4 linked regions of the Homo sapiens genome follow. The protein of the gene in region 1 interacts with the protein of each later gene in a pairwise test. Each region holds a gene or a part of one and is shown in the gene's direction. Other genes may lie near its edges.

Evidence for each region.
Region 2: the proteins of SHANK2 (region 1) and PLCG1 interact in binary tests that used the Homo sapiens proteins (3 or more experiments, as listed by UniProt).
Region 3: the proteins of SHANK2 (region 1) and NCK1 interact in binary tests that used the Homo sapiens proteins (3 or more experiments, as listed by UniProt).
Region 4: the proteins of SHANK2 (region 1) and CTTN interact in a two-hybrid assay, tested with the Homo sapiens proteins (one study listed by BioGRID).

Annotation. Positions count from the first base shown.
Region 1 is NC_000011.10:71,240,942-71,248,466, reverse strand, and holds part of SHANK2 (SH3 and multiple ankyrin repeat domains protein 2), read left to right. Parts: intron 1-4,938; exon of another isoform or gene 4,939-5,071; intron 5,072-7,525. UniProt on the Homo sapiens protein: Seems to be an adapter protein in the postsynaptic density (PSD) of excitatory synapses that interconnects receptors of the postsynaptic membrane including NMDA-type and metabotropic glutamate receptors, and the actin-based cytoskeleton.
Region 2 is NC_000020.11:41,142,778-41,150,302, forward strand, and holds part of PLCG1 (1-phosphatidylinositol 4,5-bisphosphate phosphodiesterase gamma-1), read left to right. Parts: intron 1-7,525. UniProt on the Homo sapiens protein: Mediates the production of the second messenger molecules diacylglycerol (DAG) and inositol 1,4,5-trisphosphate (IP3). Plays an important role in the regulation of intracellular signaling cascades.
Region 3 is NC_000003.12:136,940,046-136,947,570, forward strand, and holds part of NCK1 (SH2/SH3 adapter protein NCK1), read left to right. Parts: intron 1-5,537; coding exon 5,538-6,250; exon of another isoform or gene 6,251-6,286; intron 6,287-7,525. UniProt on the Homo sapiens protein: Adapter protein which associates with tyrosine-phosphorylated growth factor receptors, such as KDR and PDGFRB, or their cellular substrates. Maintains low levels of EIF2S1 phosphorylation by promoting its dephosphorylation by PP1.
Region 4 is NC_000011.10:70,413,694-70,421,218, forward strand, and holds part of CTTN (src substrate cortactin), read left to right. Parts: intron 1-848; coding exon 849-959; intron 960-1,969; coding exon 1,970-2,024; intron 2,025-3,319; coding exon 3,320-3,430; intron 3,431-6,052; coding exon 6,053-6,163; intron 6,164-6,706; coding exon 6,707-6,817; intron 6,818-7,525.

The DNA of each region.
Region 1 (7,525 bases):
TAGTGGGTAGGGGAGCCCTTGACCCCACACCGCCCGGTGGTTAAATGCACGCTGCCCAGCTGGAGAAAGCCGCCAGGCAGCGGTTAGAAAATTAGTCTTCTGGTTCCCGTGCTGTGAAATCGCGCTGCGGTCAGCAGGTGAAAACCAGTTTCTCATCATACTTCTTGATGTGCCCCACGTTTTCCATTGTTGAAGGCAGATTCAAGGACTGGTTTGATGCCGCTGATGGACGGCTGTCTCCTTGGCCATGGCGCCAGTACTGATGCTGGGCTTTGGGGTACAGTCGCCTCTGATGCAAGCCTTCCCTGCATTCTAGGGTTTCTGTTCTTTGCAGGGCGGGGGACAATGGGCCCATGCCCACTACCCAGAGCCTGCCCTGGGTTTAGGGACCATAGCCTGGGTCTCTCTGGATGCACATATGCCGGGGATGGGCCTTCAGGGAGGGACTGGCTGAAACGCAGCTCGCTCCCTGGGAGATTAAGTTCTTAAAAGCCTGTGGGGCTGCCAGGAGTTTGCTGGCAGCAGCAGGGACATGCTGGGCTCCCCGATTGGCTGCCAGATGTCATTGCCAAACCCGGCACTGCACCAGAGCACGACTGGGGACAGTGTTTTAAAATTGTCCTTGCTGGGTATGGTAGCGACTCTGGGGTTAGCTCAGTGAGGGGCGTGTGAATGGAATTAGGCCACAAACTCCCAATCTGAGGCTGCAGATTCCAAATGGTGGAATGCAGAAGGGCTCCTGGCTCCCCGTCCCAGAAATTCTGCTGCAGCAGAAAGGCAGCACGGGAGCTCCCCCAGAGGGAGAGGAAGATCAGCTGGAGCAGCCCTGAGTTGCTGGACTTAGAAAGGCCTCACCAGAGACCCCCCAGGAGGCGTGCATTAGAGGTCATAAGCACTGCAGCTCTGCCATGGCCCTGCTGGGCTGGGGCCTGCCTCTTCCATTTTTTTTTTTTTGTCTGTCCCTGAAAGTGTTGTTTTTTTTAAAAAAAACAGCTTGTTCTCTCATACATTTTCTGCAACAATTTTTTATGAAAAATTCAAATATCCAGCAAAGCTGAAACAATTGCCAGTAAACTCCTTTCAGATTGTGCCATTCATCATTTACCAAGCTTCTCACACATTTTAAAGTCAACGTCTAAAATTTTTCTTTATAGGTTTAAATATTTGTAAAGGCTACGGTACCTCTGTGAGGTAAATATCGATATTTTAAAAGGAACTGTTGCCTGACTCTTTACCCACTGTGATATAAACCCATCGTGACTCACAGCCACTTTTTCTTGACGGATACGTAAGTGAGCTTTAGGACATTTTCATCGTTCTTTTCTTGAATTTATACAGCCACTTCCCCAAAGAATTTTATCCTAATGTAATAGACTTTTATGCTCATGGGTCTTTTATTAATCAACCTAGCATACTTCTCTGCACGAAAAATATACATAAATTGACTTTCATAAAATTTCCCATGACCTGGAGTTGCTAAGTATTTAAAAAAATTACTTCTGAATTGAAAAAGCTGTACAGTCATTGCTGGGGCGCAGTTGGTCAAAAACTATAAATATATTACAGATTTTTAGAAATGGAAAAGGGGAGCTGTTACTGGAGCTGCCTCTCTGAGTGAGAAGGCAGTGGGTGTTTTTGGTGTTTTAATTGAAGCCCTAGTTGCATTAGCCCTTTTGTTTTGGTATCAGGAGGGCCCTTCACCTGGAGCTGCACCACCCCCTCACCAGCTTCCGGGGGATAGCTATGCCTTTCTTATGTAAAAGAGCCTCAGGGATGTTAGGGAGGGGAGGTGGGCAGGGGATCCAAGGCCTTTCTCCACTGAGCAATTTCAGGAAAGACTTGGCTACCCTTTAGACTGAGCTGGGTCTACGTGGAAAGGGTCCTTGCACCTCAGTTTGAAGCCCCCTGCAAGGGAGATCTTAGTTCACAAGATTACACCTGTACTCAAGGTCCTGCAGGTGATTCTTACCTGGGGACAGTGATGATACTTACGTGAAGGCAGTGACATGTGATGCCAGGTGTGTGCTCTGCATACTGCCAGGCTTTGCTGCCTCCCTGCAGACTTGGGGGTGTCCTGCCCCACGTCTTCCTCACTCCGGCTCATCAGTCCCCTCCTCTTCTCAAGGAGAATCCAGAGTCAGCACCTAGAGTCCTCGGTGGGGGTGGGGAATGGCCAAGAGTCTGGACAGCTGGCAGTCTGCTCCCTGGTCCACTGGGGTGGGTCCTGGGAGGCTTAGGGCCCAAGGAATGGGGTGCAGGGCATCCTGGGTTTCCAGACCTGGAGCTGACACAGACTTCCGGGCTCCTGGGAGGTGGGAAATGAGCTTCCAAGCCTGTCTTTCCTGAAAATCCTGCCCTGGATTCCTTCCCTGGGGAGAATGCAGGCTTCCTGGGGAGTGGAGGGGGATGCTTCTGTGGCCTCATTTGTACCCCTGAGAGCATAGGGCTCAGCCGTTCCTGTCCATGTTTTTCCTGCCACCCCGCACAAATGTCCCTGGGATTTGAAGAATCTGCTCCACTCCCCTCTTCCCGTACAGGGGCCTGCAAACTAGAGGCATTTGCCCCTGGGCCAGCCGGGCTCCTGTCTGACCCCTCCTCACGAGGTGGACAGGTCCCCCAGGAAAGGGACCACGCCTTGCTCCTGTCTGCATTTCAAGGTCCTACAGTGGCCCCAAGCATGGACCAGGGGACTTTGGCAGGGGAAGATACTGACCCGATGGCGTCGCTACTGCCCCTCGTCTTGGTTCTGGACTTTCCCTCCCTCGAGGGTCATTCAGCTCCAGTGGCTGAACTTGCCGAAGGTCGTGTGGCCCAGCTGGGATCCACACCTGGCGGCTGCCCACTCCACCGTGCAGAAGAAGGCACCGGTCGCTTCCCCGGCCTCCAGATTGCCTCCTGGGTGGCACACCAGTTTATTTTTCTGTTCACTTTCAGGTAAAGCAGATGAGGTAGCACAGTGGTTGTCAGACTTCTAGCTTAAGGAATCTTTTTTGCTCTCTTAGCATTTTGAAGGACCCAGAAGCTTTTTATGTATGAGCACGAATCTATTGTTATTTACGCTATTAGAATTTACAAATATCTAATTATTAATGCATTTAAAAATAGTAATAAACTCATGACATGTTGGTATAAATAATGTGTTTTTATGGATAACAACTATTTTCAAAATAAGAAAAACACTTGGTGAGGCCGGTCGAGGTGGCTCAGGCCTGTAATCCCAGCACTTTGGGAGGCTGAGGCAGGAGGATTGCTTGAGGCCAGGAATTTGAGACCAGCCTAGGCAATATAATGAGACCCCATCTCTACAAAAAATAAAAAATTAGCCAGGTGTAGTGGCACGCACCTGTGGTCCCAGCTACTCAGGAAGCTGAGGTGGGAGGATTACCTGAGCCTGAGAGGTCGATGTTGCAGTGAGCCGTGATCACGCCACTGTACTCTAGCCTGGGTGACAGAGTGAGGAAAAAAAATAGTGCAGTGGCTCACACCTGTAACCCCAGCACTTTGGGAGGCCGAGACGGGTGGATCACTTGAGGTCAGGAGTTCGAGACCAGCCTGGCCAAAATGGTGAAACCCCATCTCCACTAAAAATACAAAAATTAGCCAGGCACAGTGGGGCACACTTGTAGTCCCAGCTACTCAGAAGGCTAAGGCACAAGAGATCACTTGAACCCGGCAGGCGGAGGTTGCAGTGAGCCAAGATTGCCCCACTGCACTCTAGCCTGGGCAACAGAGTGACAGTCCATCTCAACAACAACAAAAAAACACTTGGTGAGAAGAGTGGCATTGTTTAACATTTTTGTGGTCTTTTTGCTGTGAGGTTTAATGGAAGACAGCTGGGTTCCCGTATCTGCTCCTGCAGTCAGCTTGTTGCAATATCACAAGTTTTGTAGCTTCCGTTGTGCACTTGGGAGAGGATGAGCTTGAAAAAGCAGCTCCCATCTCAGTGTTATGATGAGAATGGTTTGACTTCATAGATCTCTCGAATAGGCTGGTTCCCGGGGCTGCACGCTGAGAGCCTCTGGGAGGAGCGTGTGATCCGCCTTGTCAGTGCATGGGTCCCGTTTGAAAGCTGGCTGTGCCATGTGGTCCAAAGGGTGCTTTGAATGATGCATGTACCTTTTCTTGTCGTTCAGGATATGTCTGTGGAGTTTAGTCAGGGGCTTCAGACAGCCACCAGCTGGTTCCGACCCCAGGGGCAGGCCCTCTGATTGTGGGGTCTAGGATGGTGGGAGCATGCAGAGGCACCTTCCAGGCTGTGGGGTCAAGGAGGCTGGCAGAGCCTAAGGCAGTTTAGGAGACTCTGAGAGAGCAGCCTGGCCAATTTATAGAGTGAGGCAGGCTTGCAAGTGTAGACAGGAGAGTGGAGAGGACTTTGTAGGTGTCTGGCTGCCCAAGGAAGCCTATAGTTTTCTTTTGAAGTCTGGTTTTGGTATCAGAGTAATACTGGCCTCATAAGATGACTTGGGAAGCATTGTCTTCCATTTTTTTCTGAAAAGTTTATGCAAAATTGGCCTTCATTCTTCTTTAAATGTTTGGTAGAATTCACCAATAAAGCCATCTGGGCCTAGGCTTTTCTTTGTGAAAACTTTTAAAATTATTGATTGGATCTCTGCTTGTCATAGGTCTTTTTAGATTTTCTGTTTCTTCTTGAGTCAAGTTTGTTAGTTTGTGTCCCACCAGAAATGTGTCCACTTCATGTGAGTTTCTCTAATGTGGTTGCTATGTAGTTGTTTGTAGCACCGTCTCATTATTATTATTGTTATTATTTTTTTGAGACAGAGTCTTGCTCTGTTGCCTAGGCTGGAGTGCAGTGGCGTGATCTCAGCTCACTGCAAGCTCCGCCTCCCGGGCTTACACCATTCTCTTGACTCAGCCTCCCGAGTAGCTGGCACTACAGGCGCCCACCACCAGGCCCAACTAATTTTTTTGTATTTTTAGTAGAGACGGGGTTTCACCGTGCTAGCCAGGATGGTCTTGATCTCCTGACCTCGTGATCCGCCCGCCTCAGCCTCCCAAAGTTCTGGGATTACAGGCATCAGCCACCACGCCCGGCCTGACTCCTTTTAATTCTGTAAGTTGGTAATAATGTCCCTTCTTTCATTCCTGAGTTTGGTAATTTGAGTCTTCCCTTCTTTTCTTGATCATTTCAGCTCAGGTTTGTAAATTTCGTTGATCTTTTCAAATAACCAACTTGTAGTTTCATTGATTTTCTTTATTGCTTTTCTAGCTTAGATTTCATTAACTTCAGCCCTAACCTTTATTATTTCCTTCCTTCTGCTAGCTCAGTTTCAGTTTCCCGTTCTTTTTCTGACTCTCACAAGGTGGAAGGTTTTGGTTATTGATTTGAGATTTTTCTTCTTTTTAACATAGACATTTACAGATCTGAATTTCCTTTAAGTACTGCTTTAGTTGTATTCCATAAGTTTTGATGTGTTTTGTCTTCTTTTTCACTCGTTTCAAAGTGTTTTCCAATTTCCCCGTGGTTTATTCTCTGACCCATTGGCTATTTAGATGTCTGTTTAATTTCCACATATTTGTGCATTTGTAAAATAAATTTCGAATTTCATTCTATTGTGGTTGGAGAACATTATTTGTATAATTTCAGTCCTGCTGATGTTTAATGAGGCTGTTTTATAGCCGGGCATGAGGCCTCTCCTGGAGAATGTTCCACGTGCCCTTGAGAAGAATGAGTATTCTGCCGTCTTTTGTGGCATGTGCTGCAGGTGTCTGCTAGGCTGCTCTAGACTCTGGGATACAACAGTGAACCAGACAGACAAATATTTCTGCCCTTGTAGGGTCGACATCCTCGCCAGGGGAGCAAACAATAATTAAAGGAGATCATAAATAAGCAGTGATGTAGTGTGGGAGGAAAGGAGAGCTTGCTGGTGGGGGCTGGGAGCCAGGGGGGCTGCTGTTTTAGCAGGATGGTCGGGGTGAGCTGCATTGAGGTAGCGGTCCTTGAGCAAACACTTAAAGGAGGTAAAGGAAGCGGTGTGTGATACAGGAAGAGTTCAGTGGAAATTGAGAGCACTTTTTTTCCCAATGCACATTTTATAAATTGTGCAAAATACCTATAACATAAAAAGTTACCCTTTTCACCATTTTTAGGTGTGTAGTTCTGAGGCATTAAGGATGCTCATCGTGCTCTGCAGCCATCGTCACCATGTATCTGTAGAACTCTTCAGCTTGCAGAACTGAAACTACGTCCCCACTAAACACTAGCAAACCAGCCCCCTTCTCCCAGCCCCTGGCGACCACCAGTCTGTTTTCTGTCTCTTTGACTTCTGTAGGGACCTCATCCAAGTGGAATCATGCAGTGTTTGTCTTTTTGAGTCTGGCTTAATTCACTCAGCATAATGTTCTCAAGCCTCATCCATGTTGTAGCGTGTGTCAGAATTTCCTTCCTTTTTGTGGCTGAGTAATATTCCATTGTGTGGATGGGCCACATTTTGTTTATACATTCATCCATCCTTGAGGACCTGGGTGGCTTCACCCTCTGGCTGTTGTGAATAATGCTACTGCGAACATGGTTGTGCAAGTATCTTGAGTCCTTGCTTTTAGAAAACACCTTCAAAAGCAGCGTCCAGCCCCAGGCCCGTCTGGTCTTGAGATACTAAAGCTGAGATCTTTTACCCACTCGCTCCAGCCTAGGCTGCTTTCTCACAGAAGGAGGCCCCACCTTTCTTCATGGGTCTCAGGAGAAAGTAGGGGTGACCCTGAGTGTGGGAGAAATTGTGGGACATGACTCCTTCCCATGTCTGGTGTCTTCCAGTGAGGCAAGGTGCTGCTCCCTGGGAACCTGGTGGGGGTGTCTCATCTTTGTGGGTTCAGCCCCAGCCTAGAGCTGGATCCCAAGAAAAACAGGGACCAGAGACAGTAGCAGGGGGGAGAGTGTCTCCTGCAAAATGTAGCTGATTAACTGATTAGATGCTTTCCGGTTGCCTCATGATCTTAAACGCAGGCTGATTGTGCAATGGGTCATTTGCTGATCTCATATGCAGTTGCTGGCGAAGGTACGTGTTTGTTTGTCCCATGGGGCCTTGGGTCGCCTGTGTGGGGCAGGGGAAGCGGGGCTTCCGGGCACTTCCCGCTCGCTGGAAGCTTTGCCTTGATGTTTCCTTAATAGTCACTTAAAAAAATCCACCCTGAGTTGATCATGTAGCTCAGTTTATACATTCTATGGAATGGTTAACCGCATTTTATTCTTTCTCTTCCTGTTGACATTTGGGTTGTTTTCAGGATCTTGTTCTTTCAGACTGTGCTGCAGGGAACATTCTTCTATGCAGGGCTGGCGGGGCTTCCCCGGGTACCTCCTTAGAGGAGAAGTTGCCTAGCCCGGGGCTTTCACCGTGCACAGAGCTAGCTTTCACCAGTGTTCTCAAATTGCTTTCCCAGGGGTTGTACCAAGTTACAATCCCACCCACATGGTGTGAGAACTCCCTGGGCCCCTCCTCCTCAGCAAGACTTGGTATTTCCTGATATTTACCAGTCTAATGCGTGGGAAATGGTGTCTCCTTTTAACTTG
Region 2 (7,525 bases), on another chromosome or scaffold:
GATGAGAACCTGTATAAAGTGCTTAGCACCTGTATAAAGTGCTTAGCATGGAGTGTGGCACAGTGTAAGTGCTTACTACGTAGGATCCCTGACAGGACAGAGATGAGGATTAAGTTCTCAGGAGGACCTGGTGGGGAGGAGTTCGAATGCACCTGCTGTCCTAAGGGGCTGGTGCCTGGCCACCAAGCCCTTTGATTCAGAGGCAAGGAGGCCCGCCCATCCTCTCTTGCAGCTCTCAGCAGTCCCTCTATTGTCAGGGCTCTTTCCCACTGCTGGTTTTGCAGGGAGACAGGGCAGTTGGCTGGAAGCAGCTGCTTTGGGTGGTAACCCCTTCTGTAGAGTGAAGGTATGATATTGTCCTATTTCTAAGTGCCTAGCCCAGGACGCTATCTGGAGAGATCTTGTCTTTGAGGAAGTGCTCTAATGCCACAGCCTCGATGTGGTAGGGCCTGCCTCTGCTGTCACTGTTCTGTGTCAGTCTCCGTTAACTCACAGCATCTCTTCTTACTCTGTGCCTTTTCCTGTGGGATGTGGCTTCAAGGAGACCACAGATGATAAGTTGGAGGAAGGGAGTGAGGCCTGAGATTGCAAAGGTGTGATATTAGGAGACTGATTTTTCCCCCTTTCCACTTGCTTTGTTAGAACTAGAGAAGTCACTGCAGACTGTGAGGAGAGTCCTAGGAGAGATGGGTGTGGGATAGGAGGATGGGAATGTTCTGGTGCCCCTTGTAGAGTGCCTTGTTGAGAGGAGCATGGGAACAGTGCGTCCTTGGAGGGAATCTCTGAGAGCAGCATGTTTACAGGTGGCAAGACTCAAGGTGGAGCCACGGGTGAGGAGTGGCTTCAGGCTACCATTGACCAGATAGTCCCACCTTGCTGGTAATTGAGCTGAAGTGCCTGGAGATTTGTGGCTAGAGCTGGTCAGATTTGGGTTCAGGTCTCAGCTCTTACTGTGACCTTGGGCAGATTACTTTTCCCTGTCTGAAATTGATCTTTAGCTGTAAAAGTAATTTCTCCTCACAGAGCTGTATATTAATAATAAGGGAGATTATATATAAGAGTAAGAGATTTTATGTGAAAACTACCCAGCACAACATTTGTCACTTAGTGGCCACTTAACAGTATTCATTTCCTTTACTCTCACCTTTGTTAACCACAGAGCTCCAATCTTTTCCACCACTAAGCTCGGCCACAAGTGGCTGCTCCAACAACCTGGGCTAGGAGTCTGTTTCCTACTTGCTTTCTGTGTTCCTTCCCTGAGTCTGTACACAGAGGACTGGGGCATCAAAAAACTCTGGAATTGGAATAGCATATTGGGAGTTCATGGAACATTTTCTCACCTGTTGTATTGTTTGAACTTCACAGCAGCTCCATGAATCCATGGAGGGCAGGAGTTACTATCCCTCTCTTACAGAGGAGAAAACCAAGCCCTAAGGGTAAGGTCACATAGCAAGTTCATGGCAGATCCTAGGATTTCAGATTCCTGCTATAGTATTCAGTTTATTCTCCCATTCTGGGGAAAATGATAATAGGATGGACCGTTCTATAGGAACAGAGGGTTATTTTGTTTTGTTTTGTTTTTCTTCCCTCTGGCCACATGTGTTTGACCAGCCTAGACTTCCATCTGTGGACAAGCTGGACTCATTGCCTCAATTTCAAAACCCGTCCTGCACTCATCCTTGCCACAACACCGGTGTCGAGATGCTTGGCCCACCCAGACCTTTCCCACACTCCTACATGGGGGTGAATGTAGCCGCTGATTGGGGGTGGGACACAGAAGAGCCTCACCCTCTTGACTTTCTGGTTTGTGGTGACACTTCCGCCTAAGCTTCTACAGAACATGGGAACCTGGGGCTCCATGCCCCAAATATCCTGAGAAGGGCTTTTCCAGGATTCTCTATGACAACTCAAGAGCATGCATTCATTCATGTGCTCTTTAATTTGTCATACATTTGTTGTGGGCCTTGCTACTGTGTGTTGGGCACACTGAGCTGGATGTGATTACTCCAGCCTCTGACTTGTTCATGGTGGCAGTAGATCTCTAGCGTGGTTTGTGTTCCATCTCACCATACCTACTCTCCTTAAAAAAAAACAAAAAACTAGCTTTCTTGGGCCTCAGTGGCTCATTGAATAAGTGAGAGACGACTTGTGCTTCCCTGGCTTTAGACTCTGGCATTTGCTAACTGTGCCAAGCACTGTGGAGACCAGTAGTGGACATAAGGTTAGGGTAGATACAGCCAGAAAGGAGATAAATAGGCAGACAGATAAAATTCTTATAGGATTTGGTGAGTTCTATGAAGGAAATAAGGCAAGAGGCTGCTCTGTCAGGGTAGGTGAGGGTGTGCTGTGATAACAAATGATGCCCACATATCAATGGCTGGCAACAAGGAAGGTTAATTTCCCCTGTTTGCTATGTGTGCTAACCTACACCACCGTCCCTGGAGAGTGGCCTCAGTGGTTCTGGGTGAGGCCTCTAGTACAGAACCTGAACACCCTGGGCAAACTAGGCTGGAGAGGGATTTGGAGTATGGAGGTTTAGAAGGAATTAATTTCTATGACTTAGGATGCATGTGGTGAGTGTGGCTTTGCTGTTGTGGTAGAGTAGAGTGCTGCCTGTGTGGGTCAAGAGACTGTCTTGGCTGACATCTTTGAAATAGGTATATTTGTGTGGCCCTTGCCTAATTGTCATCTCTGCCATAGCTGCCCCCGCCTTCCCCACCAACCCATGGCCCTACTTGAGCTGCCTGCTGAGCCTACTCTGTTGTGGCCACAGTATCCTCCTGCTGCCCAGAGTTTGAGTTTCTCGCTACTTCTGCCACTCATCACACTTGCTTCCCAGAGCTTTGCTGGGTGTGCTGAAGTCTCCAGAGAAAGTGGGGAATATGGGTGCCTAGAGACTTCTAGGGGGTGTTTTCAGCCCCTAGAGAGTAGAGAAGTGTGAGAAGGGGTTGGTCCCCGAATATTCTGTAGTTTTGGGGAAGAAGCAATGGGGACAGTGGAGTTGGTTGCCTTAAGAGAGGCTATGGTCCCAAGAGATGGGACTTGGAGAGTCTCTACTTGCATTCCTGGCTAAGCCCTTAATATTCTCGCACCCCTCCTTGCAAGACTAGTTCCTTTTGAGGTGGTTCTTGGCTAGCTTTTGAGAGGCTGCAGTGGCTGTGTGCCCAGGCTTAAGTCCTAGCTTTCTCCCCACTCTTTACCTCCTAGGAACCGGGCCCATCCTGGGGGAGGCAGGGAGGAGCTCCTTTTTATAGTCCACATGTAGGCTTTGTGTATAGGCTCTGCTGCTTCCTTCCGGCCCTGGCCCTTCCTGGTGTTGGCCGGTGGCCCTGGCTTCAGCAAGACTCAGGATGCAGAGTAAACGGGGCAGGGCGTTCTCCTACAGAAGACTGGCATCCCTTTTTACTGAGCCCAGGCCTGGCACAGAGGAGGCTGGAGTTAGGAAGCAAGAAAACGAGGTGACCCAGTCCTTGATCCTGAGAAGCTTGTGATCTGGACCATGCAGAAAACCGCTAATGCCCAGGGCTGGCAGGAGACAGCTGTGCCTAAAGTGCTGTAGGCTGGGCCTGAGGGCCAAGATGGAATCGCTTTTCTCCCTGTAGCAGCCCATCCTACCCCCTGGGGTCCCTCCACCTGCCAGCTGGCACACAGGTGTTGGGTAAAGCATCTGTACAAAGGCTGTGAGGGGCCTGGGCGCAAGGCAGCAAGGCTTGGGTACGGAGGAGAGTGGGTGGTCTTACTGATGTTCTGGGCCCTGACAGTGAACAGCTGGCCAAACTGGTGAGGAGTTGGGCCATGGCGAGTTTGGCCACTTGTTTGTGTGTGTTTAGTTCTTCCTGGGCACAGGTGGGGAGTTCACTTTGGGGTTGGCTTCCTGTTTTCTTGGACACCTGGGGATATGGTTGAGTTAAAATGTTCTGAGGGAAATGATTGTTGAGGGCATGGGCTTGGGTCATAGTGTCCTTGGCTTGGCCTTGCCCATGGTAGGAGTCGGGTATTGACCACACTGGGTTCTGGCTGTGTAGGTGTGGATGTGTGGTGGGAGAATTCCAACCCCACCTTGACTTCAGCCTAAGGCCCAGAGAGTGTGGGCCTGAGTTCACAGGGTGACTAACCCTAGGAAGGAGTGAAGGAGAGCTCCAGTTGGCCATAGGTCCCACAGGTTTCTCAGCTTACTTGGGGGCAGGAGGTGAGCTAAGGAATACAACTCCATTCCCTCAGTTGGGAGGTTGGGCAGCGATGGGGGCAGGGGTGATGGTCCTTCTCTGAGGCACTGAAGACCCACTTTATGGTCACCCTATTCTGCCTGATAGTCCACCACCTGTTTGGAGGCAGCTCCCCTCTTCCTGCCCTAGTCACTTCCTCCACCTTCAACAGTAATTGAGTATAATGTGCCTGTGTTAGCTTGTCCATCCTAACTGGGACTGTGGCCTTTTCTTGGGCGTTCTTAGCATATCTACCAAGGAGGTTGGAAAAGGTAACATATGTCACTTTGTTAAGGATTTTGCTGAGGGCCTTTTGAGGCCAGCAGTGAAACACAGAGCATTCCCTCCAGTGAGAACAGAATGTCTGTTGCCAGACTGATCACAAGAGGATGGCCTGGTTCTGGCCTGAGAACTGGTCTACACCGGAAGCATGAAGCTCCATACAATCATGTGTGCTAGTAAAGTTTGGGCAAGCAGCTGTCCTAAGCAGGTAAAACGATAGGTTATTCAACTTCAACTTCAGAGAAAGAAATCCAAGGTAGCCATCTCTCTCAGTAGGGGAGGTGAGTTCAAAGAATTTAAGCTGGGCTGGGCACGGTGGCTCACGCCTGTAATCCCAGCACTTTGGGAGGCCAAGGTAGGGGGATCACGAGGTCAGGAGTTCAAGACCAGCCTGGCTAAGATGGTGAAATCCCATCTCTACTAAAAATACAAAAATTAACCAGGCGTGGTGTCAGGCGCCTGTAACCCAGCTACTCAGGAAGCTGAGGCAGGATAATTGCTTGAACCCGGGAGGCAGAGGTTGCAGTGAGCCAAGATCGCGCCATTGCACTCCAGCCTGGGTGACAGAGCAAGACTCTGTCTCTTTAAAAAAAAAAAAAAATTTAAGCTGGGCTTTCTGGGCAGGCAGTGAGTGAATGAGATCCCTGGCACCTTGGAGTGAGATCAGAGTCTAGATCACTCACTGGGGCCCTGTTTCCCAGGAAGCAAAAAGGGAACAGGAGAGTGGCTTGGCTTGGGCTGGCATGGCGCAAAGGGAGTGCAGCCAGATGCTGTGGCGGCTGGGTCAAGTAGCTCTAAAACAGGAGAGCCTAGTGGGTTCTGCTGAAGCAGGATGTCTCAGCAAGCAGGCCTCTGACCTGACGACTTCCGGTCATTATTTAGAACGTCTCCAGCCCCACAGATTTACTCTGTTGGAGGCTTAAGGACTAAACCAACATTTACTGTCCAAGAGGTGGCAGTAACACAGAAACCAAAGAGGCAGGAACCAAGGTTGGGGTGGTGAGATGTCATGGGGTTCAGGGAGTGGCAGAGGGGAAGGCCTCTATTCTCCCTTTCCCACTTGTCTCCCTACCTCAGCCCCTGTTGCTCTGACGCTTCCCCCACCACTATGAGTCCTAGGCCCCTGTTGTTTCCTTGTAGGAGGGAGACCCCAGATTTTTATTTCTTCTCCCAACCCATTCCATTTCCTCTCCCTTGTGAGAGGGCTCTGCAGAGACAGGGCAGCAGAGAGAGACTTGGAGATATGCTGGGCTGTGGTCAGGAGGGCCTCATTTATCTAGTGAGCAGGAACAGGTTATATAGCAGTGATGCTTTCATAGTATTTTTCTTGAATAAGGTCCCCAAAACCTTATTAAGTTCCTGGTAGGCATGGAGCATTGAAGATGGCAGACATGGTGCAGTCTCTCAAGGAGTTTACGCTCTAGTGGAGAAAACAATCAGACAGCCTTAAAATACATGTATGGCTACTATAATAAATACTGTGAAGCAGGAGTGCACCACGAAACCTGGAGTCCTCTCCATCCTCCCCTTCTGTCTGTGCTGGCCCTGCTTGGCCACTTCCAACAAGGATTCTGAGGCATTACAGAGCACACGTCTAGGGTACAGGCAGTCTTGGCTTTGAAGTATTGTTGGCTTTGCCACTCACCAACTGCCACCTTAGGTAAGTTAATTAACCTCTTTGTGCTCAATTTCCTCACTCGGGAATTGGGGACCCTAATACTTACTTCATAGTGTTATTTGCAAGTATAAAATATAAGGCAGTTTTTATCGTTGTAAGGCAGTCTTATCAAGAGCTTTATGCAATGTCTATGCAAAGTAAATATGCAAGAAATTAGTGTTAGGATGCCAGATGCTGCTGTTGCTCATCGTCTCTTCCCACCCAGCAGAGGTAGTAACTACTTCATCCTCTACTTCTCAGCTTCTTATAGTATTTGTCTGTGGACTCTAACGTAAGCTATCTAGCATAATACTCATATCTAATTTTTCCTTCCACATTCAAGCTCCTTGAGGTACTTGTATTCCAAGTATCTAGTTTAATGTCTCTCATGTAGGTGCTCAGAACGTATGGTTAATTTTGAATAATAAAGCCAGTGGGACTTCTCAGAGGGCTGGATTGGGGGCTGGTGAGAGAAAAGGAGATGCGAAGGATCATTCTGAAGTTTGGAGTTTGGGTACCTGTTTGAATGGTGATGCTCTTAGCTGACCCAGGGGGTATGGCAAGAGGCCTTGGTTCTGGTGAGAGAGAGAAGACAGTGTTTGGTTTTGAGGAGTTGTCTTTGAGACGTTTTGAGATGAAGAGTGGGGATAGCAAGTAGGCAGCTGAATTGAAGGATCTGAAGCTTAAGAGGAGAGGACTAGGCTAGAGACCTGTTTGTGAATTATCTGTACATAGGAGGTAATTAAGGGTGTGGGCATGGCTGACACTGATGAGGAAGAAGGCAGAGCACCGGAAGAGAGGACCTTGACCTGAGCCTTGACCAAGGCCATTGCTAAATGCAGGTAGGCCTGTAGCGCACAAAGAAGCATGAAAACCAGGCAAGGTTGTGCAGGAGAAATCAAGGGCAGAGCTTCAAGGAGAGAGGGCGTGATCAACCATGTTGATTGCTCTGAGGTGTCAGGAAGGAGGACCATAGATAAGTGATTTATGGGTCAGGCACGGTGATTCATGCCTGTAATCCCAGCTCTTTGGGAGGCCAAGACTGGCGAGTCATTTGAGCCCAGGAGTTCAAGAACAGCCTGGGCAACATGGCAAAACACCATCTCTGCAAAAAATATAATCAGCCTGGCGTTGTGGTTTGCCTGTAGTCCCAGCTACCTGAAAGGCCAAGGTGGGAGGATCACCTGCACCTGGGGAGGTAGAGGCTACAGTGAGCCCTGTTGGTGCCACTGCACTCCAGCCTGGACAACAGAGTGACTTATGGGCCAGGCATGGTGGCTCACACCTGTAATCCCAGCACTTTGGGAGGCCGAAGTGAGAGGATCACTTGAGGCCAGGAGTTTGAGACAAGCTTGGGCAACATAGTGAGACCCCATCTCTA
Region 3 (7,525 bases), on another chromosome or scaffold:
AGAGACAAGGTCTCACCATCTTGCCCAGGCTGCCGTCAGACTCCTGGGCTCAAGTGATCCCCCGACCTTGGACTCCCAAAGTGTTGGAATTACAGGCTTGAGCCACTGTGCCTGGCCTATTGAGCCTTGTTTTGTGTCCTAATATATGGTCTATCTTGCAGAATATTCCATGTATACTTGAGAAAAATGTGTGATATATTCTGCTTTTGTTTGATGGGATATTCTCTATATGTCTATTAGGTCTAGTTGGTTTATAGTACTGCTCAAGGCCTCTATTTCCTTAATGATTTTTCATTTAGTTCTGTCCCTTACAGAAAGTGGGGTATTGATGTCTCCAAGTATATTGAACTATTTTTCTCCCTCAATTCTGTCATTTTTTGCTTTATATGCCTTGAGGCTCTCTTGTTAGGTATGCATATATTTGTAACTGTTACACTTCTTGATGGACTGATTCTTTTATCAATATATGCTGTCCTTTGTCTTTAAGTCTGTGTTGTGTGATATATATTTATTTATTTTTAGACAGTCTCGCTCTGTTGCCCAGGCTGGAGTGCAGTGGCGTGACCTCGGCTCACTGCAACCTCCGCCTCCCAGGTTCAAGCGATTCTTCTGTCTCAGCCTCCTGAGTAGCTGGGATTACAGGCACCTGACATCATGCCTAACTAATTTTTGTATTTTTGGTAGAGACGGAGTTTCACCATGTTGGCCAGGCTAGTCTTGAACTCCTGAGCTCAAGTGATCCACCCGCCTCGGCTTCCTAAAGTGCAGGGATTACAGGCATGAGACACCGCGCCGGGCCTATGCTGTGTGATATTTATATAGCCACCCCACTCTCTCAGTTATCCTTTACATGGGATATCTTCTTCCATCCTTTCATTTTCAAACCTATTTGCATCTTTGTTTGGATCTAAAGTGAGTGTCTTGCAGATAACAGTTGCATCATGTTATTTTTAATCTATTTACATTTAAAGTTATATCTGATAAGGAAGGATTTCTGCTATTTTGCTGTTTTCATTTACTTTTTTTTCTTTCAATTCTTCTATTACTGTCTTCTTTTGTGATTTCTTTTTCTTTTTTTTTTTTTTTTTTGGAGGGTGGGGGTCAGGGTCTCACTCTGTCACCCAGGCTGGAGTGCAGTGGTGGAATCTCTGCTCACTGCAACCTCTGCCTCCCAGGTTCAAGCGACACTTATATGTCAGCCTCTCGAGTAGCTGGGACTACAGGTGCATGCCACGATGCCTGGCTAATTTTTTGGTATTTTTTTGGTAGAGACGAGGTCTCAGCATGTTGGCCAGGCTGATCTTGAACTTCTGACCTCAAGTGATCCGCCCACCTTGGCCTCCCAAAGTGCTGGGATTACAGGTGTGAGCCTCTGTGACTGGACTATTTTCTCTAATATATTGTTTTATTACCCTTCTTGTTTCTCTTTCTGTATTTTTGTTTTTCCTTAGTGGTTACCCTGGGGATTAACATCTTAGGTTTTTAACAATCATGTTTGAATTAATACCAACTTAGTTTCAGTACTATGCATAACTCTGCTCCTTTGCAGCTCCATCTTTGTATATTACATCTTTACACATTAAAATATATGCCCATTAACCTAGAATTGAAATTTTTGTTTTATGCATTTGTATTTTAAATTGTGTAGGAAAGAAAAGGAGAATTTACAAAAAAAAACTGCAATACTACTGACTTTTATATTTACTTATGTAGCTACCTTTACCATTGTTCTTTATTTCTTCATATGACTTCAAATTACTGTCCAGTGTTTTTTCATTTTAGCCTGGAGGATTCTCTTTAGCACTTCTTTTTTGAGACAGTCTTGCTCTGTCTCCCAGGCTGGAGTACAGTGGTGCGGTCTTGGCTCACTACAACCTCCACCTCCCGGGTTCAAGCAATTCTCCTGCCTCAGCTTCCCGAGTAGCTGGGACTACAAGCGTGTGCCACCACGCCCGGCTAATTTTTTGTATTTTTAGTAGAGACGGGGTTTCACCATGTTGGCCAGGCTGGTTTCGATCTCCTGACCTCGTGATCCACCCACCGCTGTCTCCCAAAGTGCTGGGATTACAGGTGTGAGCCCCTGTGCCCAGCCTCTCTTTAGCATTTCTTAGCACAGGTCTGGTAGTGATGAATTCCTTTAGTTTTTGTTTATCTGGGAATGTCTTATGTTCTCCTTCATTTTTGAAGGACAGTTTTGCTAAATATAGAATTCTTTGTTGGCTCTTTTGCTTTCAGCATCAGATCAGATTCTATCCCCTCCCCAGGGCTTATTACTGCTGCTTATTGTGAGTGGTTGTTGTTTGCTTGTTTAGTGACTTTACTAAACTACTTTTATAAGCTCTATATTCCTGGTCATGTGGGGCCGCTGAAGTCTATTCCATTTGCTTAGTAATCAGCTAGGGTTTTAACAGAGTTTCGTTAAACACCTGGAGCCAAAAGAAAAAACAAACAAACAAAAGAAAACCTCTCCCCATCTTTACAGATGGCTTTATGTTGGGGCAGTTTTTGACCACTTAGTGATGCCATTTATAATTCTGCCTTAGCCTTTGCTTACTGTTTGCTCAAAGCCTGAAGATCAGCCAGGGTGAAAGCTTAGGGTCTTCTTGGGCCTTTCCTGAATGTGCATCCAGCCCTGGCCATGTGCACGTCCTTCTTGATTGGTATACACACCCCTTATTACCCCATGTATATTCTTTCCCATCCCCTTTCTGTCCAGGCTTTTCCATCTGTCTGTTCCTTGTCCCAGTTGTTGTCCCTTGCCCCAGGCTGCTGCATCCATTAAATGATTTTTGCAAAAACCACCCAGGAAGACTCCCTATGCCTGGGAATGATTCAAGTCAGGCAAAGCCAAGGCAAGCCATTGCTCAGGTCCTTCAGGGAGCTGCCAGACAAGTTGAAACCCACAATCACAATTGTTTAAGAATGAGATCTGTATTGCTTCCTCTGGCATTAGGAGTGCAGGTTACTGTCCACACAGCCATCACTGACTTGGGGTGTGGGGGATGGTGGGCAGGCAACTTAGGATGCGATAGCACTCTCTTTACCACAAAGCAGCAACTTCTTTCTTTACCAAGCCTTGCCCTAGATTTTATAAGTTTTTTTTTTTTACTAGATTCCAGAGTTCTGCAAAAGTTGAGTCTGACAGTATTTACCAGCTCATTAATTGCATTCATTGCTTTTTGCAGGGACAGTGCCTTGGAGTTCCTTACTCTACTATTTTTGGTGGTATCACCCCAAATGTAGGGATTTCTCTGAAGGCTATCATTAACCGGAAGTAAGAAAATTAGGAAGGAAGAAGTTGATTTAGGGGTATAGACTGGATTATTTTTATTTGGACATGAGTGTTGGGTTTGAGGTACTGATGGCACAATCTGTGGGTGTCTAGTGACAGTTGGAATTGTAATGCCTGAATTCCAGAAAGGTCTTAGAGCTGCAAAGAGATCTGGGAACCTTCTGCACAGAAATTATAGAAAATGAAAGTGTATGATTTCCTTGGAATAGAGAGGAAGGTCAAGTATGTCATCTTGTGAAACACTTTCAGCTAAGGAATTCTTCATTTATTCATTCAGCATGTTTGCTGACTGCTGAATACATAATTTTGTTTTTCCTTTGTTCCTACTACTGATGTATGTACTGCTAAGCGTTGGAGACAGAAACGAATAAGATCTCGTTTTCTGCCCTCAGGAAGTTCACTCATATTGAGGAAGACAGACAAGTAAACAAGTACAATGCAGTGTTATAATAACAAGGTTAGAGGAGCCTAGACAGAGGTAAACAAGAATATGTAAACAGGTTGGGAGGGAAAATAAGAAATTCGGGGAAGTCAAAGAAGAAGAAAACATAATGGAGAGAGTGGGCTGTGATCTTGGTTGCTGCATATAGAGTTTGAGAAGGCTGAGGACTTTAAAAGTTACTGATTTGACAGTAAGGAGAGATGACATAAGAATGGTATTCATAAGAATGGTTTTAATTGAGTAGTTTTGTTAGAATGTTGGAGACAAAGGATCAGATAATAAAGAGTTGGGAGTGTGAGTGGTGAAAAAGTCGAGGGAAAAGGAAAAACAACCTTTTTTTTTTTTTTTTTTTTTTTTTGAGACAGAGTCTTGCCCTGTCGCCAGGCTGGAGTATAGTGACGTGATCTTGGCTCACTGCAACCTCCGCCTGCCAGGTTCAAACGATTCTCCTGCCTCAGCCTCCTGAGTAGCTGGGACTACAGGTGCACACCACTGCACCCAGCTAATTTTTGTATTTTTAGTAGAGACGGGGTTTCACCATGTTTGGCCAGGATGGTCTCGATCTCTTGAGCTTGTGATCTGCCCGCCTCAGCCTCCCAGAATGCTGGGATTACTGGCATGAGCCACCGTGCCCAGCCGGGAAAGACAACTTTTAAAAGAGTGGTATAGTTTATTCTATAGGAAAATTGGACCAGTTAGAGAAAAAATAAATAAATTACCAAAATGTTACGGTTTAAAAGTTGTAGCAGAGTTAAAGTAACTTCATTTTGGAGTAGAAAAGATATGAGTGTGTTTTTAGACAATTGAAGGGACTAAATAGGAAGGAAAACAAGGATGTCGAGAGTCCCAAGAGAGTCAGGAAAGATAGTATTAAGATCCTAGAAGGATCAGGATTTGGAGACTTGAGTGAAGAACGAGAGTGAGGATAATGAGAGTTTTGAGACAAAAGGAATTTGAGAAGTTTTACCTAGGGAAGCCTCAGTTTTCTAGGTAAAGTAGAGCATAAAATCACACGCTAAGAAATGGGCAGCAGTGAAAATGCCTGACTGAAGTTGATGTAGCGTACATTTGTATTGATAGTACCATTTGGTGATTTTCTCATTTCTTTCAACACATATGTGTTAAGCATTTACTGTGTACTAAGCACTATACAAGATCCTTGGGATTCTATCTGTAAACAAACAAAACTCCCTGTCCTTTTGGAGGTTACATATGACTGGGGTAAGGGGAGAAAAACAAATAATATTTTAAAATAAACATATGAGGTAAATAGAGCTACCTGGGTCTGGGAACCAAGAAAGCAAATGGGAAGATTAGCCAGACATAACTGCAATTTTATATTGCATATCATATTCTGATTTAAGATAGAAATAATTTTATTTTTATACAGCTCATTGTAGAATCTAGCTTGCTTAAACTAAGACAAGAAGAGTATGGGTGTGGTGGAGCCTTTGTGTACTTAGATTGTAGCTATGAAAGAAATCTATATTTACATTTAAGAGGGAATTCATTAATTTAGGACAACTTTATAATTATGTTATATAGTTATTTCAGGGCCTTTGACAAGAGAAAAGATGGTGAACTGTCATATAATAACAAATTAAATATTTATTTGGTTAAGAAAAAGAAAATTTGCATCTTATTTCCAAAAAGATGATTTTTAACTACATAGAAATTTGTTATATTTAAAAGCTTTAAAGATCTATATAGAGTTGAAGATCTCTTTTTAATAATGAATAAGTTCATTCTTTTGGTAATCATTTTTTTATATTCTCCTCTCATGGCCCTTTTTAATTTCAACAGGCATTGGAAAAGTGAAAAGAAAACCTAGTGTGCCAGATTCTGCATCTCCTGCTGATGATAGTTTTGTTGACCCAGGGGAACGTCTCTATGACCTCAACATGCCCGCTTATGTGAAATTTAACTACATGGCTGAGAGAGAGGATGAATTATCATTGATAAAGGGGACAAAGGTGATCGTCATGGAGAAATGCAGTGATGGGTGGTGGCGTGGTAGCTACAATGGACAAGTTGGATGGTTCCCTTCAAACTATGTAACTGAAGAAGGTGACAGTCCTTTGGGTGACCATGTGGGTTCTCTGTCAGAGAAATTAGCAGCAGTCGTCAATAACCTAAATACTGGGCAAGTGTTGCATGTGGTACAGGCTCTTTACCCATTCAGCTCATCTAATGATGAAGAACTTAATTTCGAGAAAGGAGATGTAATGGATGTTATTGAAAAACCTGAAAATGACCCAGAGTGGTGGAAATGCAGGAAGATCAATGGTATGGTTGGTCTAGTACCAAAAAACTATGTTACCGTTATGCAGAATAATCCATTAACTTCAGGTTTGGAACCATCACCTCCACAGTGTGATTACATTAGGCCTTCACTCACTGGAAAGTTTGCTGGCAATCCTTGGTATTATGGCAAAGTCACCAGGCATCAAGCAGAAATGGCATTAAATGAAAGAGGACATGAAGGGGATTTCCTCATTCGTGATAGTGAATCTTCGGTAAGTTGATTTTCGGAGGTAAATACAAATAGAGCTCTGGGTATTTTAAAAAAAAGAGAGAGAGAAATGGAGAGGTTAAGTGGCTTCCCTAAAGTTAACCAGGTAACAAGCTGGGACGTAACATAAGCATAAATGTTCCAAAGCTAAAGTCCGCATTCTTTCTAGCTATCTATTTTGAATAAAAGAGAGCTGTGGCAGTGTTGCTACACACTGAATTATTTCGTCTTGTCTAGTTCTGTTGATTTTGCATTCCTGATATATTTTCTGTTTCTGTTGCATTAAACTAAATGGAGAAAATGGAACACTGGCCTCTTCATTGAGAGTAGAATAATACTATAGATTAAACTGGGAAACATTTAAAAAATTGCTATTGGATGCAATGTGTAAGAAGGTAGTCACTGTAGTCCTTATGACATAGGAAATCCCTGAATTTAAAAAATTGATATTAAGTTTCTTCATAAATTGGTTACTTGGAAATTGGAATGCACTTTTATTATAACCTCAAAAAACCTATTTTAGCAGTGTTTGAAATGCATTTGCAATAAAAGATAAATTATATTGCAATACTAGTAAACAATAAAACTATAAAACCATAAAAGTTGAAAAATAATATGGTTTCATGGTCTCTTTTAGATACTGCTTAGGATATTAGAATTTGATGACACTCATTTTCCTTAAAAATGGCCTTTCTTTTTCCTTGATGAAAGATATCACTACTTTTCCATTTATTAAATCATGGTTAATCTTGGCTTTGCGTGAGTATATTTGTACAAAAGGGAATGTGTAATTGCACAAAATTTTGAAAGAAAATGTGTGGAAGTGGGGTGTGGTGGGGAGAGAGATTAATTGAACTTCCTGATGTGAAGTTCAGGAAAATGGGGCCTGTGCCTAATCCCTCAGAAAAGCAGTTGGTTGGCAGTAGGGAAGAGTGATGACATCCATTTTCTGTTAGTTGCCTGATCTGGCTCACTGTTTGAAACTTTGGGAGTAACTGTAGAAAAAGAGGCTTTGGGGGTTGATATAGACTGTAACAACAACAACAAAACTAATTAAAAAGAAGATAGCTTGAATGCAGAATTGTATGTATTTTCTTGTGGGTAATTGAGTGTAGATATTAGACAAAATGCAATATATACCATTATTTTTAGCAGTATACTTTTTAAGGTTAGAGGTCTCAAGTAGGCATATTTTGTTTAGCCTTCACAGTGTTTTTTAAACATTTAAATTCATTGCCGATATTTAAATATTAGGATATTTATTATAAAAATTCAGACT
Region 4 (7,525 bases), 830 kb from region 1:
TGAGCTGGCATGGGAGCCGGCAGCTGGCTCCTGCCTGAACAGGGTGCTGCTCAGCGGAAATCCAGTGTGAGCCTGTGTCTTGCAGACTATTTTTGTTTATAGTCTATTAGAACAAAATAGTTTGCTGGCAGACTATTTTTTGTGCCGATTCTTTGGTCATGTGATTCACAGAGGTCCCACTTCAGTAGATGCCAGCAGTCTCCACACCAGCGGGTCTCACGGATCCTGCCACAGGCTGCCAGCTCTGTGTACCTTCTTCATGCCCGGTCGTGTCAGAAATCCCCACTGGTGGCCCCGACCTGTGTCCAGGGTTCGTGTGCAGCTTCCAGGAGCCCAAGGGCTGGGGTGGGCCGTGAAAGCCTGCACCAAGGGCTGGGCGCGGTGTCTCACGCCTGTAATCCCAGCACTTTGGGAGGCCGAGGCGGGTGGATCACAAGGTCAGGAGATGGAGACCATCCTGGCTAACACGGTGAAACCCCGTCTCTACTAAAAATACAAAAAATTAGCCAGGCATGGTGGCGGGTGCCTATAGTCCCAGCTACTCGGGAGGCTGAGGCAGGAGAATGGCGTGAACCTGGGAGGCGGAGCTTGCAGTGAGCCGAGACCCCGCCACTGCACTCCAGCCTGGGCAACAGAGCAAGACTCTGTCTCAAAAAAAAAAAAGCCTGCACCAAGGACCCGGGCCTCCCAGGAGTCGTGTCGCCTTCCTTGGCTCCCCAGATGGGTGTGTTAATGTAAGGTTTCCCTGCACTGACCAGGATGTGGCCTCCCCCAGCCCTGCTCTGGGAGGAAGTGAAGCGCCGCAGTGTTGTTGGTGTCTAATGCTTTGTGTTTGAACCCTGTTCCAGTCAGCTGTCGGCCACGAATATCAGTCGAAACTTTCCAAGCACTGCTCGCAGGTGGACTCGGTCCGTGGCTTCGGAGGCAAGTTTGGTGTCCAGATGGACAGAGTTGATCAGGTGAGTGATGTGGCACTGGGACTGGGGCAGGTTGGGGCAAGGGGGGCGTTCCCCGTAGATCTGAGCCCTGTTGGGCCACTTGTAGTAGCAGGCAGGTGCCCTCCAGCTCTGGGGGACTGCAGAGAGGGGCATCTGCCTCCCAGGATGCTCTGAGAGCCTGGGCTCTCAGAGAGAGGAAGCAGGATGCGGCGGGCTTGCTGTAGCAGTCCCTGCGGTCGCTCTTCACTACGTGCCTCAGTACTGGATGGCCCTGTGTCTGTCCCAATGTGCCAGCAGGGACCGTTTCCACCCGTGTTTCTCACATGTGTGTTACTGTGACAGAGTGACATCAGAGCCTATACCGGGGGGGCAGGATGCGCTCGTGTCCAGGACCCAGGCTTTGCGTCCAGGTGTTGTTGCAGTCATCCTAGGCCCGAGCCTCTTTGATTCTCTTCGGCTCGGGTCTGTTGGCTCTTTTGTTTAATAGAGGAGCGATCAGGAGCCTGGAGGGAGCAGGGAGCTGATGCTGGTCGCAGATTGTGGCTTTGTGACATATTAGCCACGGTTCTGAATTTATGTGTCTGTGAAAGGAGGATGATCATACCTATCTCACGGGTGTTTGCTCAGATGCCCATCGCAGTGCCTGGCTGGTGGGAGTGCACCCCTGGTGGCCACTGCTATTCTCATTACTAATACTAATGTTCTCAGCATGACTTATTTGAGAAGCGAGTTTTTGTGAAGCCCGTGGAATGAATCAGCTGAGCATTCCCTGCTGCCGCATGCTGGGGAGGGCAGGTCACCAGGGATATGGCTTGGCCTGCGCCGCCCACTGGGCCTTGCAGTGGGCCTGTCCGTTTAGGATGCCAGAGCTCTTGCGTCACTGCCACCTGCACCTGGCTTAGGAACCCAGAGGTCACAGCATCATGTGTTTCATATTTTTTTAAATGTCATGTCATGAATTCAGAGAGATTGTTTCAGGGACATTGGAAAGTATTTCTCCCCACTTTTTCATGTGTTTTTGGTCGTCACAGTCTGCTGTAGGCTTTGAATACCAGGGGAAGACTGAGAAGCATGCCTCCCAGAAAGGTAAGACGCGAAAGGTGCAGAAAGAGCCCGCTCCGGGGGCCCCGATGGGGAGAGTCACAGCCACCTGAAGCCGTTTCCCCGCGCTCCGGGGGCCCTGATGGGGAGAGTCACAGCCACCTGAAGCCGTTTCCTGAGCGGTGGCTGTTGCCACAAGGAGGACTCTGCCCTCCTCTTCATGTTTCTGGATCATCTGGATACCACATGATGGATGTATTCCCCGTTACACATCCCCCTCGGAGCCCTGGCATCTGCTGTCATTGTGGGGCTTCTCCCCCTTGTAGCGGAAGCCGCCTTCCCTTCATCTGGGCAGCGCTCCTCCTGGAAAAGAGAGCTCACAGATTGATCGGCAGAAAGCTAACTTCCCCCCAAGGCTAGAAACCAGAGTTGTTAAATTCTTGTTTTCCTTATACACATACGGTCTTAACTGCTGGTGATTAATCTTGATTACATCATGCAGTCTCTTTTTTGAAAGACCAAAGCATATCGCCACCTTAAAGTTCTCAGTTTATTTTTTGCAAGCTTATTTAGTTCTTCCTCCTTTGTGTCATTGCATCATCCGCGGAACAAGCTCTCAGTCCTTACGCAGTCTCGGTGCAGTCTAGGTGGAGGTAGCTGTGGTGTGGGCAGGCGGAGGATCAGGGTCTTGTCTCCCATGTTCAGCTGCATGGCTTTCTTCATATGAGGCTTTCTCTTTCCATTTTTTTCATTTTGTTTTGTTTGTTTGTTTGTTTTGAGACAGAGTCTCGCTCTGTTGCCCAGGCTGGAGTGCAGTGGCACGATCTCGGCTCACTGCAACCTGCGCCTCCTGGGTTCAAACGATTCTCCTGCCTCAGCCTCCCAAGTAGCTGGGATTACAGGTGTGTGCCACTACCCCTGGCTAGTTTTTCTATTTTTTAGTAAAGATGGGGTTTTGCCACGTTGGCCAGGCTGGTCTCAAACTCCTGGCCTCAAGTGATCCGCCCACCTCAGCCTCCAAAGTGCTGGTTCTTTGTATGAAGCTTTCCAGCTTTTACCTGAGCAGTTGATTTTCAAAGTGGGCATGCAGCGTCATTTCTGACTACACAAAGGAACTGCCCTGTAACAGCTGACAGGGCCCAGAACCCCCCCATGCACCTGTTGTGAAACAGGGTCCAGCGTCACCTGTATGGAGCAGTGGGTGGCTTGTTGTACATTTTAAAATGTGCGCTTGATGTGTTTGTGAGTTGTAACCCCTACACACTTTTGCTTAGTTTAACAAAAGGAACAGTGTAGTTCGTCCTCAGGCCCCCGTGCTAATTGCTGCCCTGTCTCTCCAGACTACTCCAGTGGTTTTGGCGGCAAGTATGGCGTGCAGGCCGACCGAGTAGACAAGAGCGCGGTGGGCTTCGACTACCAGGGCAAGACGGAGAAGCACGAGTCACAGAGAGGTGGGGCGGACCCCACGGTCTGTAATCACGCGTTTGCTCCAGAAACACCCACGAGGGCATTTTCTCTCTGCACACGTGATTGTTGTAGATTTTTTAACTGAAAATGTTTGGTGTTCTTTTCGTACCAGTGTATGTGGGCTTTTCCTAATTCGAATGGCTGCACAGTTCCCCATCGTATGAGGATTCCATAGTCCATGTAACCATTCCTTTTTTGAATGTGGAATTTAGGTTATTTATTTATTTATTTATTTATTTTTGGTAGAGATGAGGTCTTGCCGTGTTGCCCGGACTGGTCTTGATCTCCGTGGTCTCAAGCAATCCTCCCCCACCTTGGTTTCCTTAAGTGCTGGGATTACAGGTGTGACCTGTAAATTTTTTTTTTTTTTCTTTTAGACGGAGTCTCGCTCCGTTGCCCAGGCTGGAGTGTAGTGGCGTGATCTCTGCTCACTGCAACCTCCACCTCCCTGGTTCAAGCAATTCTCGTGCTTCAGCCTCCCGGCTAGCCGGGATTACAAGCACACGCCACCACGCCCAGCTAATTTTTGTATTTTTAGTAGAGACGGAGTTCTGCCATGTTGCCCAGGCTGGTCTTGAATTCCTGACCTCAGGTGATCGCCCTGCCTTGGCCTCCCAAAGTGCTGGGATTACAGGTGTGAGCCACTGCGCCCAGCTGAAACTTGACTGCAGGGAACATTCTTGTACCTGTGTTTTGTTCACAAGTGATTATTCAAAAGAATCAACTCCTAGACATGGAATTGCTGGGTCGAAGGCTATTGAATGTAAAATTTCCATAGATACTGCCAAGTTGTCCTTGGAGGCTGTGCTGAGTTCTTCCTTCCCCACTGCATAGCCTGTACACCATCACTCAGAGCGTTTCCCAGGGCTGCAGAGGCTGTGGCCTGCCTGTTTCCCTGTGCCTCTTGTTTGGCCTGCACATTTAAATTTTTAAAAATATTTGCCAACATTTGAAAAGTGAGAGCTTGACTATTTAAAAACTCAAAAAAAAAAAAAATTACCCCAAAGCAAGAAACACCACTGGAAGATCCGACCATGCTGGCTTGGCATTTCCCTGAGGAAAGTGCCGGTGGCCTGGAGGGCAGCTTGGCTTGTAGTTTGTCGCGGCCTGGCCTGGCCTTGCCTTCCTGCCGGTCAGGCCTTGCCTGCCGCACAGAGCTGCTTGCCTCTGCTCTCTGCCTCTTTCCTGGGAACAGTCCATTCCTCCTCTTCCCGACACCACACAGTTGTGAGCAGCGCATGCTCCGCGAAGCTGCATGAGTGTGTGACTCCAGGGAGCCAGGGAGCACAGGCCGAGCACCTGGGCAGACGCAAGGCTCCTTGGATGCTTCAGGCCTTCTCTCCCAGGCCTTGATCCTCTGCCTTGTGCTGTTAGTGGGTCCATGAGAGAGTCATGTTTTGGTGTCACAGTGACATGCTAAATGGCTTCATTCTGAGTAGAACTGAAGTTTCTGGAGGATGCTGTGTGTGTCCTATTTCCTGGCATCCCCCTGCGTGCTTCAGTTTGTGAAGAGTGGCCTTTGAAAGCCTTGCCCTTCTGCTGCCTCCTGAGCTTAGAGCCTTATCATAAACTCTCATCTCCTGCTAGCTTCTGGATGCAATGGATGATGTTACAGGAATTCATCTGCTGTACTTTATTTCTTTTTTTTTTTTTTTTGAGACGGAGTCTCTCTCTCTCGCCAGGCTGGAGTGCAGTGGTGCGATCTCAGCTCAGTGCAACCTCCTCCTTCCGGGTTCAAACAATTCTCCTGCCTCAGTCTCCTGAGTAGCCGGGATTACAGGCATGCACCACCAAGCCCAGCTAATTTTTGTATTTTTAGTAGAGGCGGGGTTTCACCATGTTGCCCAGGATGGTCTTGATCTCTTGACCTCATGATCCGCCCACCTTGGCCTCCCAAAGTGCTGGGATTACAGGTGTGAGCCACTGTGTCCAGCCTCTGCTGTACTTTAAAAAAAAAAACTTTTTTTCTTAATTCTTTTTTTTTTTTTGAGATGGAGTTTCACTCTTGTTGCTCAGGCTGGAGTGCAGTGGCGCAATCTCGGCTCACTGCAACCTTCACCTCCTGGGTTCCAGTGATTCTTCTGCCTCAGCCTCCCGAGTAGCTGGGATTACAGGTGTGGGCCACCACGCCCAGCTAATTTTGTATTTTTAGTAGAGATGGGGTTTCATAATGTTGGTCAGGCTGGACTTAAACCCCTGACCTCAGGTGATCCACCCACCTCGACCTCCCAAAGTGCTGTGATTACAGGCGTGAGCCCCCTCCCCCAGCCTGTTTTTTGAATTTTTAAAATATTAGCTAATGATTTAACTTAGAGATGGGGTCTTGCTATGTTGCTCAGGCTGGACTCCGCCTCCTGGGCTCAAGTGATCCTCCCTTCTCAGCCTCCTGAGTAGCTGGGCTGCAGGCACACACCCCCACCTCTGGTTACCACTGTTTGTGTTTCTGTTATTACACATAAATAGCACCTTTAAATACTGTCTGTATTATTCAGTGGTCCTACAGTGGACCTGAAAGATTTTTGTTTTTTTAATCAAAGGATAAAATACTTGCATGTTCACTGATTTCGTTGCTCCTTTTAAAGTAGTCCTTTTTTGTTTGTTTTTAGATTACTCCAAAGGTTTCGGCGGCAAATACGGTATCGACAAGGACAAAGTGGATAAGAGCGCCGTTGGCTTTGAGTATCAAGGCAAAACGGAGAAGCACGAGTCCCAGAAAGGTGTCTTCCGTTTTATCTTACCCTCCAGCCAGCAGCTAGTAATGTGACAGGTGGTAGCCACACCGGAAAAGGAAAAACAAAGCGTTATTGATAGCCCTTAACGTAGATGTCTCTTTTTCATGAAATGCCCAACTTGAAAACGGCACATCCAGAAACACAGCTGCTAAATAGGAACTCGCAGCTTGAGTGTTATGGCGCTCCAGCCCCAGCGGCGTTGCTTATCGTGGTGGCCACACCCCGCACGTCTGTGTTGCCCGTGTGAGCCTGTGCTGTCTCATGGTGCGGGTGGAAGCCGCATGCGTGGGAGCTTCCATGGGGTCCTGTCTGGCTTAGTCACGATGCTGAGGTCATAGACTAGGTTATTTCCTGCCACTCTCCAAGGAGGGCCTCTTCATGGATGTTATCTAAAGTATTACCAAAGATCCGGAAGGGAAGAGTAGATTGAGTGAATCATATGCGTTTAACTGTATTGAAAACATACTTTCCACCTGTGACCTGCACTACCTGTTAATGATGGGTTCTGGCCTTTCATTGTGCATGTAGACTATGTGAAAGGGTTTGGAGGAAAATTTGGTGTGCAGACAGACAGACAAGACAAATGTGCCCTTGGCTGGGATCACCAGGAGAAATTGCAGCTGCATGAATCCCAAAAAGGTACATTCACTCTGCCTGTATGCGAGATGGTTTTAGAAGTTTGTTTTTGTTCCTTGCGGGGTCAGTTGGTATGTGTTGTGTCTGCGTGTGCCTGCTGCACATTGTTTTGTCTTCACTGTTTGAAGTTGTCCTGTGTGCCCCCCCAATCCCCCAGTTCCCTCCAGCTAGTGTAGTCACAAACCCTCCCTGCTGACACGGGGTGGTACCCCAGAGAGCTGGGTTTACCTGGAAGTGGGTTGCACGGGCCAAGCCTGCAGCAGGGGGCTGGGTTTACCCAGGAGTGGGGACATGGGTCAAGCCTGCAGCGGGGGGCTGGGTTTACCCGGGAGTGGGGGCATGTGTCAGGCCTGCAGCGGGGGGCTGGGTTTACCCGGGAGTGGGGACATGGGCCAAGCCTGCAGTGCTCCTCATCCAGGCTTCTTGTCTATAAAGTGGGCCACGGTTTTTGGCAGGAGATACTTACTTTTGAACCGAAAGTGTTTTCTTGTTGGAATGGGTGCCCCTTCCCTGGAAAAAGGAGCCTGAGGGGGCTGAAAGCCTCTCAGTGTGACCCAGCCCTGAGAGAAGCAGGAGCGGGGCTAATGGGGCTGCAGCGCCCTCCGAATCTGCAGGGTCTCTCCTCCCGTGTACACAGATACGCACACTCGTCTGCAGTGTGCGTAGGACGCTAAGAATGAACTGCACAGCCGGGAGTGCCTTTACTGAATT